Linked DNA regions of Homo sapiens: region 2 is linked to region 1. Evidence: fine-mapped expression QTL. A gene starts in region 1. The other region holds a variant in brackets. All regions are shown on one strand. Distances are between the middles of the regions.

Region 1 (3,038 bases):
TCTTTCCTGGGCCACTTCTCCCTAGCTACTATTTATCTCAATTTCTCAAGCTGCTTTGAGAAAAATTCAGAAAAAAAAATTGGGGAAAAATATTAAAACTGTATCTGAGACCTTATGTTCAGAAAGTTTATGAGTCCCTGAGAAGCTTTAACAGAGACATTCACTTCCAAATGAAGGGAAGAGACTATGCAGGTTCATTCTGCAATGATCAATATGAGCTTTGCAATATTTGCCACACTTAGTCTCTCAAGACATGTTTCTTCCTGCTCCACATTCAATATAATTTACTTTAGGAGCCAAAATCCTTACTATGCCTCTGCTTGCTAATTTTTTTAACCACCAATTTGTCAGCATTTTTATAAAGAGGATTTTATTTTCAACACCCAAATTCCTATGAGATTGATTTTATGTTGTAAGATAAATGGGGGATGGGGAAAAAATTTTTGATAAATATGGTCAAACTAGCATTTGAAGACATCTAGAACATCTTTCTTCAATGTGATTATTAATAAGCAATTATAACCCAGTATAATTTATATTGCACTAAAAACTTCTATCTCTACTATGCTCAACATAATCAGGCATAATGTCACTGGGATATTATAAATGGGGAAAACACATTAAAAATTACTTTCACTCAAGTATAGAATATTAAATAAAAACTAAATCAGTCTTGCAGAGCAAATTAAAACAAAAATCCTTACCGAATACTTGAGTCATGTGTTAAAATCGATGCTTCATATTTCATAATTTCTTCTAACATTTTCCTGGACTTCAAAGTAGCAGCGTCTATCATATCTGTAATATAGGATCAGAGACATAAAAATCCTTAAGCAAATAGAACAACTAAAACAACAGCAAAAGAACTTCACAGATTATTATTATTATTTTTTGGTCAGTAGTCTTTATTTTCTCACTTGGTTTTGATGATTCATCAGGATTATAAGTGAGTTGGATTGCTTTTATCAGCTGTTTGACTTCTGATGTTTTGTTTTCAACTTGATGTAAGATGTCTTCCAAAGACTGTAGATCCTTGTCTACTTTGGTTTGATAAGTAGACAGGAAATCTGCAATGCCACAGGTAGTTGGACAATAACTACCCTGAAAATATAACAGTGATTAAAAATGTAGACAGATGCTACTCTTAAAATCTATTAAGAAAAATAGGTAAAACCTAGACTATGTTTTTAAAAAGTTACAAGTGCCAGATGATATTTATGAGGGAATTATTTCTATTCCTCTGCCCCTCTCCAGTTCACACACAAAGGGAGAAACATAAAAACTACTTACGAATCTTTCATCTAAGATGCAGCAGTTGTCTCTGGTAGCAACATACTAAAAGAGAAAAAATACAGAAATTTCACTAGTTTATTATCTGTTTTATTTTCCAGCTTTCCATTTTAAACAACGTTTTGTGAAGAGCACACTTACTGCTACACATGTTGAAGAGAGAAATAAAAGAGCATAGAAGTAGAGAATTAAATTCCGGGGGTGCAAGGACCAACTCATGATGTCTGAGTGCCCGGAGCTCCGAGCCTTGTAGTGTCAGCACTGTCACCTCTCAGGCTCCAATTGTCCCTTTATGTAAGCTCCTGGGATAGCCAGGACTGCAAATGGCTGGAGCTGATCACGGGGCCTCCTTACCAGAAGGGTGGGCAGGTCTTTCCCGTTCCTTTTTCCTCATCCTGGCCCCCAACCTATACTGTCAGGTTCCCAGATTTTGCACACAGGTTGAAGCTCCTCCTTTTTGGCCCAGCTCAAGGTTTTTTCTCTGATCCAAAATTATCTGCAAAGGCTAGTGAAGCATTATCCATTGCTGTGAGGAGGAGGGCAGTCCTGGAGGCTGTGTGATGCAACTTCTTCCAGTACATGGCTGAGAGCAAACAGATATGACCTCGAACTAAGCAAACCTAGTCTATCCTTAAGATGGGTCCTGCTGCCATCACCTGAATTACCAAAAGAACTTTCTTAGCTTAGGGATCAGTTAACACTATTATTTTAGCCTAGGGATCAGTTAACATTATTATTTTTAATCTGTGGCTGTGGCAGGAGGAGACTGACTTCCCCCATGTCCCAGTTCACTATTCCCAGGAATGAATGACCCTGGAAATACATTCCTGTCCCTCTGTGTCAACCATGTTCATAGGCTCTCACTTCTCAGGGAGCTTTTGAGCTCAATCTTCCCTTTGTCTGAAGGTGGGCATGGCACCCCATCTGCCACAGAGAAAAGAGCCAGGAGCCCACTTCATTGTTCCTGTGGTTCCATCAAGCTATCTCAGAGAAGAGAAAAATCCACCTCCCTTGTATCTAAGGAGAGTAGAGGCATAGCTGAAGGAAGGGGCAAAATGAGGTGCTGGGGAGGGGCCATCATTTCTGTTTGGCCCTTACAGCATCCTTGTGTTTGGGAAAACATGTCTGTCATCACTGCCTATTGAGATTTATCACTGGGCGTTACACTATTATTAATGTCTCTATTTTTGGTTATCCCTCATTTCTTCCTCTGGAACCAAGCTTATTATAAGTTTTGATGAAATATGTTAGTGGGAGAAATGCCTCCAGTTTGAAAGAAATACTAATACTTTAATTCTGTCTTTACAAAGGTATATTTATTGACTCAAAAACAAAGATAAATATTCATATTCAGTAAATAATCAATAATTATAACAAAGTGAACACATCAAAACCAGATTTGTTGCTTTTCTTCTCCTCCTTAATATATCCCTCTCTGACTTAGCAGTTATTGTCAATCATATCACCATACCACCAGCCAATTAAGTCTCACAATCTTTCTCATCCATCTTTTCCACTCAGCTAATCAGTTGTCAATCAAGTCAGTTGAATTAAACATTTAAGTATTAGTATTCTTTCAAACAGCTCTACCTCAGATAGCATTTGTAGCAACCTTATATTATATGTATACATGCTGTATCCACTGCATTAGATTGTAAACTGATTTCTGTGGCTACGGCATCTAACATATATAGCTGTACTTAACATAGTTGTAGTTAACACTCAATAACTATGTAATGACTTGAATC
Region 2 (2,500 bases), 22 kb before region 1:
GGCCACGCACGCCTCCTCCTTCAGCTAGAAAGTCACCTTCACCACTATCTGCAGTCTTTAAAGATTCATTCACATACACAAAAGAGAGCAACAGCAATGTTAGCCAGAAGAGGAGACAGTGGCATGCCTACAAGTCCCCAGGAAGAGATGGCACTCTCACAGAGATTAAGGAGAGCAGACACAGGGCTTCGGCAAGCTTCAGGTTTCTTATCTTCAAATGGAAATCCTAGGACCCATTTTATGGAGTTGTTATGAGAATTAAAGGAGACAAGGTGTACAAATTTCTTAACTGTGTGTGACACTTAAATAAGCATTTGATAAATATTAGGAGTTTTAAAGAATCCATCCTAAAAGGAAAATTATTTGAATCTATAAAATCAGTTAAATTTTACCTTTTCATTTTTACTAATGACTGCAGACAGAAAGTTGAAAACTACTGTAGAGCTCTTTCTCCTGTAATTGCTGCTTCAGTAGAAAAACCTAGACTATCTTAACTGAATGTTCCTCTCTCCTTCAAGTTTCTATGTAACCTTTAGAGATGGATTCATAATTTAAAAGAATACCATTACTGCGGAAAAGCGTATTGCCTTACTAACTAATCTCTTCTGATACTGCAAAGATATTTCCAAAGATAATTCGTTTGCTTTTTCTTCTGTCTTGACAAACACAACAATAACCTTTCAGCAAAACTGTACTAACACTAAAAGTTCTGCTTATTATGGACAAGTAGCAAGAAATTAATAACTAAAGAAAACAAATCTTACCATAAAATGTTTTATTCCATTAACTAGCATTATAATGCACCAAGGCTTTATAGGTACAAGGATGGCAAATAATTCTTGCCCTTTTTAAAACAAAACAAAACAAAATGTGGTAAGACTGAATGACAGATGCTAAAGTTTCCCTTGTGAGTTTGTACACTCTCATCCATCTAAGATCTTCCTCTTGGTGTCATATTACCCTGTATTCTTGAGGTGTCAAGCCCACCCAGGAAATTTCCTCCCAGGCCTGGGGTCATAAAGCTAAGAGTGTGTCAGGACATAGAGCAGGTAGACTCTGACCTCCAGGCTCTTTGTGGAATAAACACCAGAGAGAAAGCAAGAAGAAAAAATGAAAAGGGCCATACCCATGCTGTGCCCACCACACTTAGGACCAGGCAGACGATCCTCATGGAAAACATCTTTTCTAAGGGTGGGGCTGGCTCCTGAGGAGCACTCCAGCTGAAAGAAAGGATTGCTGCCACTCCTAGTTCCCATCCTATTTAAATCTGCAAGAGGTTTGGTTAATCATTGGCTTTGTCCTGTGTA[G/C]ACAGTCAACCCTCCCTCTACGTCCTTTGTTCCTCCTATGCTGTTGGTATCCCAGAAATTCTTGCTCAATTCCCCTCAGCTTGTTTGCTTCCGATAAGCTGTTGCAAAGGTAGCATTTGATTCTCCAGTCAACAATTAGGAGATCTCACATTCCAGGAACAGGGTGGCTTTGAGAATGAAAAGAGGAGCATAGGAGGGTATATCCATATTTCTAAACGTGAAAGAATATAGAAGGTGCTTAGGTAAGCTAGCTGTAGCCCCCAGTAGTAGTGATTTAGCAAACAATATTTCACTTTATGCAGAAATTAGGGTTGGGTGATCTGGCTTATAAAAAAAATAACTTTGGGGATAAGCTGGCCCTGAAGGCTTTCTATAAGTTTATTTAGAACATATTACTTTTCTCTATTTAAAATATTAAGATGACAGCAGCCCCAGGAACAAAACATCTTGGGTTCATAATCCAAGCTGCACCACTTCCCTGCTCTATGTTCTTGGACAAGTTACTTTACCTCTTTATACTTCAGTTTCCTCATTTATAAAATAAGGATGCTGATAAGCTACCCCATGCTTTTATGAAGAATAAATGAGTTAATTCTTGTAAATCTCTCAGAACAGTGACTGTCACATAGGAAATACTCAGTGAATTATGGGAGATCATAAAGTGCCATGAAAAATACCATTTATTTCCTGTTTCTGTGCTAGCAATCTCATTTCTGAGTGTATTTCCAAAGGAAATGAAATCAGGATCTTGAAGAGACACCTGCATTCCCATGTTCATTGTAGCTATATTGACAATAGCCGAGATATGAAAACAACCTGTTTCCACTGATGGATGAGTAGATAAAGAAAATGTGTATATATATATATACACAATGGAGTATTACTCAGCCTTGAAAAAGAAGGAAATTCTGTCATTTGCAGTAACATTGATGAACCTAGAGGGCATTATCCTAAGTGAAATGAGCAGATATAGACAGACAAATACTGCTTAGCTGGTCGTGGTGACAGGCACCTGTAATCCCAGCTACTCAGGAGGCTGAGGCAGGGAGAATCACTTGAACGCGGGAGGTGGAGGAGGTTGCAGTGAGCCGAGATTGCATCATTGCACTCCAGCCTGGGCCACAGAGTGAGACTCCTTCTCAAAAAAAAAAAAAAAAACGGAAAAGAAAGACAAATACTGTATGATCTTTCTT

Evidence for each region. PIP is the estimated chance that this variant, and not a neighbour inherited with it, causes the effect.
Region 2: its variant is fine-mapped to the expression of FGG in lung (TOPMed, PIP above 0.99).

What each region holds. Positions count from the first base shown.
Region 1 is chr4:154,611,101-154,614,138 of GRCh38, forward strand. FGG (fibrinogen gamma chain) reads right to left here and starts at 1,556. Exons shown (of 9, transcript NM_021870.3): 1 at 1,432-1,556; 2 at 1,291-1,335; 3 at 918-1,101; 4 at 705-798. The coding sequence starts at 1,509. RefSeq lists an enhancer at 1,598-2,770.
Region 2 is chr4:154,589,508-154,592,007 of GRCh38, forward strand. FGA (fibrinogen alpha chain) reads right to left here and starts at 1,235. Exons shown (of 5, transcript NM_021871.4): 1 at 1,127-1,235; 2 at 1-55. The coding sequence starts at 1,180. The variant G/C (reference allele first, on the strand shown) is at 1,308.